Linked DNA regions of Homo sapiens: region 2 is linked to region 1. The links come from fine-mapping of genetic effects on gene expression. Tissue or cell type: spinal cord. Region 1 holds a variant in brackets; the other region holds the start of a gene. All regions are shown on one strand. Distances are from middle to middle.

Region 1 (8,103 bases):
AGGGTATGGTGGTCAGGCAGACTGCACAGCCTGCGATTTATTCACCAGTCAAGGCCAAGTCCAGGGTGGAGGCTCAGGGCTTGGGAATGTGGGCAGCTCGGGTGTGGTGGGACAGGTGGTAGGGATGGCTGGGGCCTGGGAGAGCTTCACTCAGAGCTAGCTCCCTCAACGCCCCATAAAAGTGCACAGTACAGATGGGCTTGTCTGCCGGGCCAGCATTCCCCAGTTCCCTGTACAGGGAGCCTGTCCCTGCAGAGGCCACCAGGGCCTGGTTGGGCCTGACCTGGGCCAGGGTTCACATTCCCACCATACCCTCTGGCCAGAAGAGGAGAGGACACAGGTGTGCTGGGTTGGGGGTGGAGGCAGGCTGGTTCTGAGTAAGACAGGGCAGCCCAGTGTGAAAGGAAAATAAATCTTGGGACTCCCCAAGTCACTAAGCCAAAGGGAAAGGTCAAGATGGGAACTGGTTAGGGCAAACCTGCCTCCCATTCTATTCCTAAAAGAGATACCTACTAAGATAAAAAAGCTACACACCTCCCTCACAATTTGTCCACAAGGAAGTTCCTTGCAGACAAAGGACAGACAGAACTCAAAAGTCACCCTTCTGCTCACTGAGACGAATGCGTATCTGATTGCTCCCTTTAGAAAGGCTGATCAGAAATTCAAAAGAATGCAACCGTTTGTCTCTTTATCTTCCTATGACCTGGAAGCCTCCTCCCTGTTTCGAGTTGTCCCCGCCTTTCCAGACCAAACCAATGTTCATCTTACATACATTGATTGAGGTCTCACATCTCCCTAAAATGTATCAAACCAAGCTGTGCCCCATCACCTTGGGTGCATGTCGTCAGGACCTCCTGAGGCTGTGTCACAGGCGCGTCCCTAACCTTGGCAAAATAGACTTCCTAAATTGATTGAGACCTTTTTGTTTATAGCAGGGAGGTGGTGGAAGGCAGGCAGGGAGCCACCCTTCCTGTGGGTCTCCTGCTTTCCTCGGAGGCTGGAATGGGCAAGCATTTCAGCATCTTGGGGGAGGCAAGAATGCATCCAGGCTGAGGCCCTGACTTCTGCCCGGAAACTGCCACCCGCCCTCCTGGACGTGGCTCCACCTCACTCCAGTGACAATTACACATCTTTAAAACACTATTTTTTGGAAATTCTTTCCGATATAGGGAAAACAGTAAGATCTCAGAAAATTTTCTGATAAACCTTGACCCGATATATTGGATGAGCCTTTGAAATGAAAACAAACTGTTCCTTGAGAACATTTTACCCGTGGATATGATGTGGAGTCCACGGCCCCCATTCCCCACCCTTCCCATTCCCTCCCATCCCCCAAAGTCGGCGGCGGGGGTCTTGGGGCATCTGGGTGGCTCTGGGACCAGCCCACCCAACATAGGAGGGGTCACCCAGGGGTTCTAGGTTTGTCGCATCCCTGGCGGCTCACCCAGGACCCACGGTCATTCAAGCACACCATTCCTCATCCCCTCATTCAGCCGACACTTGCTGAGCACCGCCTTGGCGCTGGAGCAGTGGTTCCGGTCCATGCTGGTTGCTAGCGGCCTGCAGAGCAGCAGGGACAAGACAGCAGCTTCAGGGAAGACAGACATCAGCGTGTCAAGCGTGGGTGCCGTGGGGAAGGCAGGAAAGGCTCCCTGAGGGGTGGTGTCCAAGCTGAGAGCTGGAGTGGAATTCGGCAAAGAGAGGAGAGAGAAGAGGATGCGGGAGAGAGGCCCAGAGGAGGAAATAGACCTGCAAGGACCTCCCCTCCCCGAAGTCTGAAGCCATAGCTGATAGGCCTGCTCCACACCAAGCCCTTTCTCCTTTCCAGAGGTACCTGCGCACAGCCACCTCTGATATTTGTCATTCTCACCTCAGTTTATTCCAGCTCTGGTCATCCCTGTATGTATCACTCATGACAGCAGCCTCATCGAAGCTCCTGTCTCCTCTTTTCCCACCTGTGAACAGAAAACACTTTCTCCCCTTTCTCCCCTTCCCCTTCTTCCTTCTTTCTCCGTCTCTGTCATGCACAGCAGGCATCAGAATAGGGCTGTGGGCAGCCCTTTGCCCAGGTCAATGTGAAGGCAAAGTTCCCAAGTGCCGGCCACTCTGCACCTGTTGTCCTTTGAGGAGAGACCCCGAAGCCCCTACATGTCTACACGTGTCTCTCCACCAGCTGCCAATGTCTTCTGCTTTCTCCTAGAAACAAGTTTGGAGAAGGATGTTATTTTATTTCCTTGCAAATTCTAGTTTTGTTTTACACCTGTTTTACTGGAAATAGACTATTTTTTAAATGGACAATGGTGAGGATCCAGTAGCTGATACAGTTTGGCTCTGCGTGCACCCACATCTTGTGTTCAGTTGTAATCCTCAGTGTTGGAGATGCGGCGTGGTGGGAAGTGATTGGATTAGAGGGGTGGTTTCTAATGGTTGAACACCATACACTTGGGTGCTGTTCTCATGACAGTGAATGAGTTCTCATGAGATCTGGTCATTTCAATGTGTGTGGCATCCACCCCCCCACCACCTCCCGCTCTGGCCATGTAAGGCGTGCCTGCTTTCTCTTTGCCCTCTACCACGACTGAAAGTTTCCTGAGGCCTCCCCAGAAGCTGTCATGCTTCCTTACAGCCTGCAGAACTCTGATCCAGTTAAACCTCTTTTCTTTATAAGTTACCCAGTCGGAGGTATTTATTTATAGCAGTGCAAGAACTGACGAATACAGTCATGATCCTGTTCCTCAAAGCCAAGACATTGGAGTGGCCAACACTCAAGACTGCGAATGACCTTCAGGCACCGCCTGTGCATCCTTTATGGACCACACGGGTGTGTGCGCTTTGCACCGTGTGGCGACCTAGCATCAGATTGGCGCAGTCGTCTGAATATTTGTTCTCATATGACACAGCCGACTACAGAAGGATCTGCATGGATTTCTTTAATGGAAACTATTTGTAAAAGATAAGCTGTAAACAAAGGAAATGGTTTGGAATAAAATTGATCTTTGTTTATTGTTGTTGACACTGAGAAGTTTATATTACATAATTGTATACAACCATTATAAATAAACACCCACGAGCCTACCTCCCAGGTCAAGTCCTCGAACATGGCTAGAATCTCAGAACCCGCCAGTCCATCTCCCCAGATGCCCTCGCTCTCCACTGCCTGCCTCTCTCAATTCACAGCGGCACCCTGTGCCTGGTGGCAGCTGTCCTTTAACTTTTGGAACAACCACATCATTGTTTTTCTAAAGTTTTTCCACTTCCATTTGCATCCTGAAACAATGTGGCAGAAATTTTATATGAAAAGCTTCATTTCCTCATGCCTATAATCCCAGCACTTTGGGAGGCCAAGGTGGGTGGATCACTAGGTCAGGAGTTTGAGAACAGCCTGACCAACATGGTGAAACCCC[G/A]TCTCTACTAAATATACAAAAATTAGCTGGGCGTAGTGGTGCACGCTTGTAATCCCAGCTACTCGGGAGGCTGAGGCATGAGAATTGTTTGAACCCGGGAGGCGGAGGTTGCAATAAGCCAAGATTTCGCCACAGCACTCCAGCCTGGGTGACAGAGCAAGACTCTGTCTCAAGAAAAAAAAAAAAAAGCTTCATTCCTTATTTAATCTTTTGTGTCTTTCTTCTTACTCTCATAGATACGTTTGGGAGACGTATCTATGTGGAAGCATGTGATTATAGCTGTTTGTTTTTACTGCAGTATAATATTCAATTGAATATGCGCCCACTTTACCAGAACTAGATATTCACTCTGTTTGAGATTCCCATTTTTGATAATTGCACACAGTACAGCCGCGAGCATTCCTGTAAATGTACCCCGGGCTCAGGGCATGTGTCTCTGTAGGTGGATGGTCAGAAGTGCCATTGCGGGGCCATAGAGCCCGTGTAACCTCAATTTTTCTAGATAAAGCCAAAGCGATGTGCCCTCACCTGTGGTGTCTGAAACTTCCTTTCTCCAGCCTTGCAGCAGCTCATGTGTTGGCCTTTCAAATTCTAGCCATTCAGTAGATTGGTTGGAGGTGAATTTTTATTTTGTTTTCATTTGAAACATTTTCCATTGAGGTAAAATGCACCTAAAATAAAATTTACCATTTTAACCTTTTTTTTTGAGGAGTCTCGCTCTGTCACCAGGCTGGAGTGCAGTGGGGCGATCTTGGCTCTCTGCAACCTGACTCCCTGGTTCAAGTGATTCTCTCCCGAGTAGCTGGGATTAGAGTTGCGCGCCACCACACCTGGCTAATTTTTTATTTTTAGTAGAGATGGGGTTTCACCCTGTTAGCCAGGAAGGTCTTGATCTCCTGACCTCGTGATCCGCCTGCCTCAGCCTCCCAAAGTGCTGGGATTACAGGCATGAGCCACCGCGCCCAGCCTCATTTTAACCTTTTTAAGTGTACACTTTGGTGGCACTAAGTACATTCACAGTGCTGTGCAGCCATCACCCTCCATCTCCAGAACTCTTCATCTTAAAAAGCTGAAACTCTGCAGCCACTAAACACAGCCCCTGGCACTCACCATTCCACTTTCTTTCTCCATGAATGTAACTACTCCAGGAATATCATCAACAAAATCATGAAGCGGTAAATGTCCTTTTATAAATGGCTTATTTCATTTAGCATAATTCTTCAAGGTTCATCCATGTTGTATGATGTATCAGAATTTCCATCCTTTTGTAGGCTGAGGAATAGCCCATTTGCTATGGCTTGGATGTGGCTTGTTTCCACCAAAAGTCATGTTGAAATTTAATCCGCTGTGGGGCAGTGTTGGGAGTTGGAGCGTAGTGTTGAAATTGCATCCATTGTGGGGCAGTGTTGGGAGGTGGAGCGTAGTGTTGAAATTGCATCCATTGTGGGGCAGTGTTGGGAGGTGGAGCGTAGTGTTGAAATTGCATCCATTGTGGGGCAGTGTTGGAAGGTGGAGCGTAGTGGGGGGTGTTTGGGTCATGGGGTCAGATCTCGCATAAACAGATTAACGCTCTCTCTCCGGAGTGTGTGAGTGCTTGCCCTTCCAAAACTGGATTAGTTACCAGAGAGCGGGCTGTGGTCAAAGCGAGTCTGGCTTCCTCAGCTCTCTCTTGCTTCCTCTCTCACCAGGTGATCTCTTTGCTCATCCCCCCTTCCACTTTCCATCATGAGAGGAAGCAGCATGAGCCCCCTACCAGATACATCTGCCTAATTTTAGGCTTTGGAGCCACCAGAATCGTGAGCCAAATAAACCTCTGTTCTTTGTAAATTACCCAGCCTCGGGTATTCTGTGATGGCAACACAAAACGGACTGAGACAGCATGGTATGTGTGCTCCACACCTATCCACTCATTCCTCAGTGGGCAAGCGGGTTACTTACGTCTTTTAGGTGCTGTGAGTAGCGCTGCTGTGAACATGGGTGTACCAATATCTGTTTGAGCTCCTGTTTCATATTTTTGAGTATATGTCCAGAAGCGGGATTGATGGTGGTATGGTAGTTCTCTGATTAATTGTTTGAGGACCTTTTTTTACAGTTGCTGCACCATTTTACATTCTCACCCGCAGTGCACTGGGTTCCAATGTCTCCACATTCTTGCCAATGCTTATTACCTTCTGGGCTTGTTTGCTTTTGAGGGTTTGCTGTTGTTGTTTTTAACAGTAATCATCCTAACTGGTGTCCTGGGACTGGTGTCCCCGTAAGCAGAGCCTGAGACGAGGGTTCTTATTCAACTGACTCTCAGGAGACAGCAGGTGAATCAAGCAATAAGGGGCAGAAGCTGACCTCAGCTGGAGTTCACCTCAAGCCCGACTCCATGGGAGCTCTGGAGTGTGAATGCACCCGGGACTCGGCCCTGCTGTGAGGCAGGGGCTGCCCTGTAGTATCCTCATGCCAGCTAGTCCTTGTCCTTGGTCTGCCCTGGGTGCGGGACACAGCCCCTTGATGAAGTGGCTTCTGCTGGGCCAAGGGCAATTATTTCCAGGAGTGTCAGCTGTGAGTTGTTGGCCAGTACAAGCTGCTGCCAGGGGTGGAAATGGCAGCCAGTTAAGTGAATCTGAGCTGAGCATGGCAGTAGCTACTGCAGGGTGCAATTCTGTGATTGCCATCGAGGAGGCACATGCCCCATGATCCGTCTGCAACTGGACTTGTTCTCCGTGAAGTGTCTGTTCAAGCGTTTCCCCATTTTTCCATTGGGTTGTCTGGCTTTACGTTTATTATTTGTCTTTGAATATCTTTTGTCATTATGTGCATTGCAAATATCTTCTCCCATACTTTGGCGTACTGTTGACTTTTTAACCCGTAGAAGGAGTCGGTCTTATTAAAGACACCCTCCTCTTTCTTTGTGAAAGCCACTGATGAGATTTGGAGAGACTTCTCCCAACTCAATCTCTAAACAAACAGTCTTTCCACCAGCATGTCCACTTGAAAATTATGAAATCTGATTAAAATAAGAGAGAATACACTTCTCACAATACCTTCCACTGGAAAATCATAGTTAAAGTAATTCAGTGTGGTGCAGATTTAATTAAGATTGGATTGCGAATACTGGAAATGGTATTAGCATTCAGCATTTAGCCCCTGGAAACTCGGTGAATGTGACAGTTAAGATTTAGAGGATTTGAAATGAATTTTTTTGCAAGCTGGGCTTCCATGTGCCTATTAATTTGATAAATTTCGGAAGTTATTCACATCCCCTCTGATTTTCTTTGTTAAAATTGTCTCTGATGGAAGAGAAAAGCTCCCTCTTCCCGTGCTGCTTCTTCAGGCATAAGCAGAGAGCACAGGGCCTGAGCCCTGCCCCTAGCCAGGCCATTCCTCCTGCCTGCGCTCTTCTGCATGACCAGAAGTGGGTTGAATAGCAGCATTTACCCAGAACCCCACGGTGCAACTGTATTTGGAATAGGGTCTTTGTAGATGTAATTAGTGAAGAATCTTGAGACGAAATCATCTTAGATTTAGGGTGGTCCCTAGATCCAATGGCGAGTGTCCTTATAAGATGGGGAGAGACACAGACACACAGAGGAGAGGCCATGTGAAGACGGAAGCAGAGTTTAGAGCAACACGGCCACAAGCCAAGGAAGCCAGGGGCCACCAGAACCTGGAAGAGGCAGGAAAGCTCCTCCTTTAGAGCCTCTGGAGGGAGCACAGCCCTGCTGGCACCTTGATTTCGGCCTTGTGGCCTCCAGAACGGTGCGAGGATAATGCCTGAATCTGTTCTGGAGCTTTCCACACCCTACTGTGAACCCCTGCAGCCCACCTGCCTGTCTCTGTCTCCAGGCTGAAGTGCAGGGGTCAGGGGCTGGCTGTGGCTCTGCTCCAGGGCGGGGCATCTGGCTCACACTGGGCAGTTCAGGTGCACAGAATACCTTGCAACAGTGATCAGCCACTGCTAGGGGTGAGAATCCCACAAGGGAGATCCCACAAGGATCCCACAAGGGAGAGCCCACAAGGTTGGAGGAGCCTGTGCGGAAGCCCCCTCCACTCATGCTGGCTTTGAGTTTGCTGACGTCTTCAGCTGTCTGGTCCTCTGCTGGACCAGCTGGGACTGAGGATGGGGCTTCAGGGAGGATGAAATATGAACCAGCTGGCAGCTCTAGGACCTCCCCTGCCCCGGCCTGCCTCTGTTCCCAGCTGGGGCAGTGACTTGCCAGACGCCAAGAGTGCCCGAGACCAGACTCCTGCTGCCCACAGGCCCACACCCCATCCTGTCCTTGTGCTGGGTGTGTCCTTGGGTCTTGCTTCTCCTCTGTCCCTCCCTGCCAGCTGCTTGGGAACTGGCCTGTCTTCTGAGTTTGCCTGGACCCTTACTCCAGGCCTCTCTCTGTTCCATGCCCTGCAGCCCCAGGTCAAGCTAGGTCCACCAGAGTAGTGGCAATGCCTGATAGTGGAGGTGGATACACAGCAGCTCCTGGCCAGGCTCACAGTCTTCACAGGCTTCATGGTGCTGCGACAAGGAAAGGGGCTGAGCGAGTCATGCCCTGTCTGTGCTCATCACCATCCATCACTGTCCATCACCGCCCATCACTACTCATCACTGTCCATCACTGTCCATCACCACCCATCACTACTCATCACTGTCCATCACCGACCATTACTGTCCATCACCATCCATCACTGCCCATCACTACTCATCACTGTCCAT
Region 2 (8,103 bases), 240 kb after region 1:
TAGCAGACAGTGCCGGAGTGCCCCCATCTGCTCCCTCTCCTCAAGGAGACCAGGCCAAGAGTCAGGGTGGGGAGGGGCAGGAAAACAGCCACAGGGAAGGCCAAACCCAGCTCAGCCCAGAGTGGAGTGTTTGGGGTCATCTCTTGCTACCAGGGTCCTCAGACTAGAGAAACAGGTGCCAGCTCTTGGAGGGGCCACAGGTGCATTCTTCTGACCCCACCTACCACACGGGTGACCCAGCCTCACTGAAAAGGCTTGCTCTCCTCTGACCTGGATAAGGGAGGCCAGCCCAGACTTCTGCTGATCAAAAGGACCCAGCAGAGCAGAGCAGGCTCCAAACAGCTTCACCTTCAAGTTGACTGCCCCACGGCAGGGGCTTGGAGAGAGGTGGAGGGAGGTGCAGGTATGACCTCCTTTGAGAATAATGGTGCCAGGTTTTCTCAGTCCTGCAAACTCTGCCCAGCTGGCGCCCTTGTCCACCCACCCTCACTGCCCAGTGGCAGCCCCTAAGTTGGGGAAGCCAGGGCAGCCCTAGGGTTCAGACTCAAAGCCGAACTCCTGTAGATTAGGGTCCTGGCTCAGGGCTGGAAGACCTTCCAGGGTACCACTGAGTGTCCAGGCAGAGCAGGGACCAGCACCCCACCTCACAGACCCCACACGAGTACAATCCTGCAGGGTCGTCTGGAGCCGAGCTCCTTCATGAGATGACAGCGGCTCCCTGAGCCAGCACCAGAATGAGAGACCGGATGAATGTTCCCCAAGTGTCACCACCAAAAGGCAGGGCAGGAAGCACGGGGTGAGCTGGAGGTGGAGTCCATGGGCCAGAGCAGGCCCTGGGGCAGATCCCCTCCCCATCGCTAAGCCCTGTAGAGCTGCCCAGAGCCCCGCTTCTTTCTGGCAGGCACCCTGATTACCATTTGCAGAAAGATCTCCAGCTCTGCAGGCAGGCTGTCCTGCCCACCCTGCTCTGCCCAGGGCTGCCAGCCACTCCTGGGGACCATGTTCCCTTCATCAGCCACATGCTGGGGTATCCACTTCCTCCTTCAGGCTGCTGCCCAAGGGGTCCCCAGACCCCCACAGAGGTGTGGGGACCCTACATCCTCCACTATGCCCCAGGGCACCAAAACACCTCCTGGGTGCTCTAACAGATCAGATGCCACATCCCAGCCAGCCCTAGTCCACGCCCTTGAACCCCTGCTGTCTGCAGGCACACGCGCGCACTCCTGCCTCCCACGGCCAGTAGGACAGGGCTCTCGTAGGTAGGGATGCTACAGGCAGTGACATTCACAAGAAGGCAGCCATGGATGGCAGCGACAACAATCGCTCAGTCTGTTTGGAAACTTACTTTTGGAGTCTCCGAAAGACAATCCCTGAAACCAAACAGAAAGGGAAGCTGTCCGTCCATGGCAGCGGGCAAGGGCGTGCACACTCACGAGGGTTCCACGGAGCAAAAGTAGGATAATTTCTGGGCAGACCTGCCGTCCGAACGGCTGGGAGCTGCGGGCCCCCCGGCGCTCCCTGTGTCTTCTGAGCAGAGACCAGGCTCAGCATCCCGCAGACCCCCACCCTCCCTAGGCAGAGGCAGGAGTGGGCCCTAAGCCAGCAGTACACGCCCTCCAGGACCTGGGGTCCTCCACAGAAGATGGGGGCATGGAAGGGAGGCCCCCACGCCCTGGCCCAACAGGCACTGCCTGCCTCAGCCCGTCAGACAATGCTAAGTGTCCTCTGCCCTCACTGCACCTGTGGAAGAGCAGGTCCAGGCTGCGCCACACGCCCACTCTCAGGGACAAACTTTTCCTCTCAGGTGTTTCCTCACTTGCTCATTCATTCCTTCTTTGTGTCGCATACGTGTGCCCCCACTGTCTAGCCAGGCAAAGACACCAAAGCAGGAGGGGGTGGTCTTGGTCAGAGCCACAAGGGTCACTGTGGTGGCTGGGATTCGAGGCATCAACTATGTCCTCAAACCCATCCACGTGTCCTGTGTGGAGCGGCCCCAGGGACAGCGGTGGAAGAGGGGGCTGATCAGCCTTGCCCATCCTCCCAGAGTCCCAGTCTGGACCCTGCACCCGACTAGCACGGGCAGCCTGGCGGCTCCTGCCCTGGTGACAGCGGGCGTGTGCAGCATTGCCAGGAGGGAAGCAGGGGTAGCTGCAGCTGCTCAGGATCCTGCGGCTCCTCCCAGGTGCAAACACGGCTTTTGCTTCCAATGCCCCCGGCGGCATGTGCATCCTCTCCAGGGAAGGCCCTGGCTACAGGTCTCCTGGCCTGCGGAATGGGAATGATTCCAGGACCTGCGATGGTGGTAAGGACTTCCTTAGGAGATGAAGCCACCCAGGGGTCACCAGGGCCAGGCAGAGGCTGCCACCATCGCGTTCTAAGCCCTGCTGTCCACACTGCCATCCAGAGGCCCAGAACTAGGCTGGAGGAAGGACTTGCCTGGAGGAATAACCCAACCTGGTCAGATTAAGAGGAGGCGTAGACAGTGACGGGGTAACTATAGAGCCTCAGGCCGGGTTAACCTCAAGTCCAGCTTCCTAGGCCCAGGCAGCCCTGCCTGATCCCGCAGTGCGTGAGACCACACAGAGAGAGAGCGGGATCGTGGGCCCAGGCTCCTGACCGTGCTGGATAAGGTGTGCAGGCAGCCACGCCAGGCCCAGGCAAGAAGGAGCAAGCCTGGAGCATGTACTGAACAGGGGTCTGTGAGTCACAAAATGTGACGCAGCAGAGGGTATGTGGGGGAGGGCAGGGAAATGCACACTTGGATTGGGTCCCCAAAGCCTCCCTCTCCAGCAATGACTCAGTGTCTCTGGGTGAAGGAGCAACCTTCTCTGGGAGGCAGGGCAGGAAACCCCAAGAGCCCAGGGGGAGGGCACCCCACCTTCCTGCTCCAGCCCCACACAGCGGCTGAGAGCCCCAGGCACAGAAGGGGTAGGGAATGTTGCCACCACCCCCACCACGGACCCCGCTGCAGCTTCCAGGTGATGCCACAGGCCCTGAAATCAGGACACCCTTGCTGTACATGGGGGTCATCTTGAGGTTCTCTGCCAAGGATACTGACCTCTATGCCTGCCCCCAATTCTGCAGCTCAGGCACCTGGCTTCACCGCCAGGCCTTACCATGTGGAGAACAGGGGGCCGGGGTGGGGGGTCTGGGAGCCAAGGAAGGAGTGAAGCCCTCCAGACACCAACATCGCAGTCCTCGCCCCCTCCCTACAGACCCCATCCAGCCCAACTCCCCATGTGCAGCTAAAGCCACGCGCCCTCCTACCATACAAGGTGCAGGCAGCCCTCCCGCCTTCTTCAAAGAGGCATCTGCTCCGGCTCACTCCACCCTCCTCCCCCAGTGGCCTAACTAGTCGCCGGGTTCCAACCCTATCCCTTCTCCAGAGGTCATCTGGCCCCACCCAGCAGCCCAAACCAGTAGACCGGCCCTGCCCCATCACTTTGGTTTCTCCAGCATCCAAAGAACGTGGAGGGTCACCCCCCCAAAACAGCTGTCAAGGTCCAACAATTAAGCCATCTGTTGCCGCTCCCTGGGACTGGGAGAGGTGAGGTCGAGTTTCTTGGCGAGTTTCCTGCGTGCAGCCCCCACACCACAAAAGCCCCCGGTGCGAGCCGGAGCCCAGCGCGAGACGGCTGGAAGGGCGCGGGGAGGGAGCCGCTGCGGGGTGCAGGCGGGGAGAGGGGCGGCGGCTCGAGGCGCGGCCGGCGGGCGGAGGGTACGGAGGCGCCGGGAGAGCGTTCTCGGGGCGCGCTGCCAGGGTGCAGGAAGCCGGAGCGCGCGGGAGGGAGCGGGGAGCGGGATGCCGATTTCGGCTGGGGGCGGGGAGGCCCCTGATTGGGGCGCGGGAGGCGTGATGTCACGTCCGGCGGGGGAAGCCCTGCCTCGCGCACCCTCCGCCCCCGTCCCCGCCCCCACAGGTGGTGCCACCGCCCTGGGCGCTGGGCGTGGGGGGCCGCCCTCGGGGACCCCGGCCGCGGCCCCGCGCTGCCCGGCTCCGCCGCCTCCCGCCGGGGATCGATAGAGTCGCGCGGCCAGGCGGGCCCTCTGGGTCCCTAAGAGCCAGAGGAGCGCCCAGTGCGCCCCGGCCCGCGCCCCCGCGCCGCGCCCCGCCCCGCCCCGCCCGGTGCTCCCAGTCCCTCCCCCACCCCTGCGCTCCCACCCTGCCCCGCCCCTCTCCTCTCCCGCGGCCGCCTAGGGGCCGGGCCGGCGGCGGGGGAGGCGCCGAGCCGGGACTGCGCTAGCCCGCCGCGCTCTGGGCTGCCCGAGCGAGCGTTCGGACCTCGCACCCCGCGCGCCCCGCGCCGCCGCCGCCGCCGGCTTTTGTTGTCTCCGCCTCCTCGGCCGCCGCCGCCTCTGGACCGCGAGCCGCGCGCGCCGGGACCTTGGCTCTGCCCTTCGCGGGCGGGAACTGCGCAGGACCCGGCCAGGATCCGAGAGAGGCGCGGGCGGGTGGCCGGGGGCGCCGCCGGCCCCGCCATGGAGCTCCGGGCCCGAGGCTGGTGGCTGCTATGTGCGGCCGCAGCGCTGGTCGCCTGCGCCCGCGGGGACCCGGCCAGCAAGAGCCGGAGCTGCGGCGAGGTCCGCCAGATCTACGGAGCCAAGGGCTTCAGCCTGAGCGACGTGCCCCAGGCGGAGATCTCGGGTGAGTGAGGGCGCGGCGCCGGGAACCCGGGCCTGGCCGGGCTTTGGGCTCCGGACCCTGGTCTTCCCGACGCGGCTACTCGCCCCCGGCGCGGGATCCTGCCGCCTGCGCCCCGCCGCCCGGGCCCCGAATGGCTCCCTGCGCTGCGGCTCCTCTGCAACCCCACGGCCCTCGCCTCCAAGCCCCGCGCCGCACTCCCTCGCCAGGGTCTCCTCCGCCCCGCTCGGTCGTCCTCCGCCCCTCCCCGCCCCCCGCACGCCGGCTTCTTCCCTGCGGAGCTGATCTCGCCGGGCTGCGGGCTCGGGGCGCTCCTCCCGGGCCACGGCTGGAGCTGGGCGTCTTCTGCCCGCCGCTCGGCCCAGCGCGCCTGCAGGCCGGGAGTCCCAGCCCCGGGGCCGGCTGTCGGGGCGCTGTGGGGCTCGGCGTGGCCGGGCTTTCGGGGCGCCGCTGACGGTGGCCGCGGACCCCTTCTGCTCTGTACAGACCTCTCTGGGAGGCGTCTCCGGTCCTGCCCGGGGATTCTCGTAGGGTCTCCAGCAAAGGCAGCCTAGGTGGGTTTTATAAGCTGACCCCCTCGGGGGGTAGTGCGGAGGGGTGGGGAGGGAGCTGGGCACTTATCCGCGGGCGGAACGCCGCCGCCTCGTAGAGATTCCTGTCGAAGAACTTGTACGCGCCGGCCCCCGCCTGGCGCTTGGGCAGCCTCGTGCCGCGAGTCCAGCTGCAGGTGGTCGGCGCGTTGGATCCCGCCCAGGGGCCGTGTCATTTCTTTGTAAGAACAGCGGCCCTCTTGGCGCCCCCTAAGCCCTGCAGCCGCCTGCGGCTCTGCCTCTTCCCTCCCTGTGGTCCCGGAGGAGCTTTGGGGACAGAAGTGTACGGGTGGGTGGAACGGTGGGCTCCGTGTGCTAAGGAACTCTTGGAACCCAAGCTTCACCTTTCCACGTGTGGGAACCAACCTCGGTCTGTACCGCGTGCCAGGGACCCAGTGGGCAAGAACAAAACAGACTAGGTTCCTGCTCTGGGGGGCTCCTCTGAAACCAGGGGAGTGGGAGTGCGGGTGGAGGGCTACTCAGATGGGGACTCAGCGCAGAAATGCCCATGGTCCTGGGGATTCTGAGCAAGAAGGATCCGTGCATCTGGGTGAGGGGGGTCTGTGGCCATGCCTTGCCGCGGGGGGCGGAGTGGTGGGAGGAGGCAGTCGGGCTCTGGACCCCTGCCCCTCCAGGAGGAACAGAACCCACAGACAGCCCCTTGCCCTTGGTGGATCTCCCGATGCCCCCAGCCTGAGGTTCTTGTAAGGGCCCCCTGACCGCCCCCCACAGAAGGAACAGAACCCGCAGACAGTCCCTTGGCGGATCTCCCGATGCCCTCCCCACCAGCCTGAGGTTCTTGCAAGGACCCCTCCAAAGTCCCCAGGACAGGCCTTCCTGTGCCTCTGCAGAGGCAACCCTGTCATTTCCAGGCTGCCCCCCTCACCCCACTGGGCTCTGTCTGTCCCAGGTAGGGGGCACACCTGGATGCCAGGCAGCACAAGGCCCTCGGCACAGTTGGGTTCGTTCTCTGCCCCTCTACTCACACATAAAGAGGCATCCCTGGCCTTCCTGGTGAATCCCTCCCCAGGCACCAGGGTAGCAGAGTGGCTGAGTGGCTGCCCCTCCCAGCCCAGAGTCTTGAACCCTGCTCCTTTGGAAACCATTAGCCCCCAGCCCTTCTTAGCACCTCCATGTCCTCTGGGCAGTTGCATCCTTAGGAGCCAACCTAACCTTCCTTGCATCCACAGGCCACTGTTGCCAGTTAGAGAGACAGAGTGGCAGAGTTTGGCCATCTCCCAAGGGTGAGAAGAGAGGGCAGGACAAGATGGAGAAGTTGATGTGGGGCTGGGCCAGAGAGTGTGGGTCGTGCTGCTCTTGGGTTGGGGAATGCAGTGGGTTAGGGACCCAGGACAGGCAGATTGTGTTGATTTCTCTGTGTCTGATGGGGCAGGGGATGCTGTCCACCCCGCGTGGGGAGTACGAACGCCCTGCAGCTGTCTAACCACGGTGCCAGCCATGGGCCAGTGCCTGCTGCCAGGGCTCGGGGTGCCACCCTCCTCCAGACTTGCAAGGCCAGGACTGCACTGGGCAGGATTACTGCCTCTCCAGTCGGTGCCCCTCCGACAGGAACCTCTCTCCCTGCACCCCCTATGGCTGCAGAAGTGGGGAGTAACCTTCGGGACCCAGGGTACAGAAGACAGTGTGGGAGCCACGTGGGCTGAGGGAAACAGGGTGACTCCCTCGGGTCGCAGCAGTCCTGGGGCAGCCAAGCCCAGTGTCCCCTCCTGCTTTGTCGGCTGGGCCTGGGCTCCGTGGAACGGGCGCCCTCTGGTGGCCCCTGGGCGGCAGATCCTCCCAGGAGCCCTGGACCCTCTGTGGCCTAGTAGGCACCATTCTCAGTCCCCTCTCTCCTGCATCCAGACTTCTCCAGGGGGACCTCCTCAGAGGGAATGCGAACCCCCTGGGGTTGGGCACCTCGCTGGCCCGGAGCAGGTGGGGTAGAGATCTGATACTTCCTCGTGGGAAGGAGAGCAGTTGGCCCTGGGTGTGTGGCGGGCCTTCCCAGCCTCTGCCCCAGGGACCAGAAAAGGCAGTGGGTGACAGGAGACTTAGCTCATGAAAGAGGGCAGTGTCGGGACATATTGGGCTCCCTTTTGAGACTTCCTTTGTCCTCTGGACAGCCAGGCCAGGCTGCAGTGACAGCAGTGGTCATCCCATTTTATGGGCAAGGAAGCAGGCCTGGGTGCCACCAGCTGGACGGTGGCACTGCAGCAGGGCACCCGGCCACCCTCCCTTTATGCCAGGGCACGGCACAGAAGGCAAGGGCGGAGCCGAGTGGCACCCCGGGTGCCCCTGCGCTGCCAGGAGCCCTCATGCTGAATCACTGCCCGCGTGCCAGCAGGCCTCCTGCTTTTGCTTGCAAGGTTGTGTCTGGGCATAGGTGTTCCCAGAGCACCTGTCTGGCCTCCTGATGTCTGATGTGATGTGATGTGTGTCTGTTTGCTCCTTTGCTGGGGTCTCAGCGCCCCACCTTGGCACCTGAGCTCCCTGGTCGCTGGGACCACCTCTAACTGTTTCCCTGTTGTAGCCACAGAACCCGGCTGGCTCCCGGCCCAGGATAGCTTCTCGGAGGACACCCCCAGGCCTTCCTGGCTTTATACCTGGCTGTGCTGGGTGGGGAGCGGGACATGGAGGGTAGAGGAGGGTCTCCTTGGAGCAGACACCCCTGTTCTCAGGGTCTCCCAGCCTGAGGCAGAGGAGGGGCCCTAAGGTCTAGTTTTGGGGGCAGAAGTCAGAGTGGGGCATGGGACTGTCGGTGGCACAGAAACTGCCCAGCCGCTCCTGTGCCCAGAGTGGCAGCCCGCCTACCAGCTGGAGCGGGCACCAGCGTGCCCTGGAGCCTGTACCAAGCACCCACTCGTTGGGCCC

Direction of the effects. Alleles are on the strand shown, and positions count from the first base shown. SD is a standard deviation of normalised expression in the study named.
For the expression in spinal cord of the gene that starts at base 4,224 in region 2, G is the high allele of the variant in region 1 and A is the other (small effect, 0.36 SD a copy in GTEx).

What was found. PIP is the estimated chance that this variant, and not a neighbour inherited with it, causes the effect.
Region 2: GPC1 starts here. The variant in region 1 is fine-mapped to the expression of GPC1 in spinal cord (GTEx, PIP 0.97).

The regions. Positions count from the first base shown.
Region 1 is chr2:240,189,710-240,197,812 of GRCh38, forward strand. No RefSeq gene overlaps it. Among named protein-coding and RNA genes, the nearest start is that of OTOS, 53 kb to the left of the region's middle. The variant G/A (reference allele first, on the strand shown) is at 3,405.
Region 2 is chr2:240,431,440-240,439,542 of GRCh38, forward strand. GPC1 (glypican 1) reads left to right here and starts at 4,224. Exons shown (of 9, transcript NM_002081.3): 1 at 4,224-4,645. The coding sequence starts at 4,480. RefSeq lists enhancers at 2,593-2,887, 3,287-3,863, 5,597-6,173, 6,225-6,726 and silencers at 3,693-4,352, 4,413-4,472.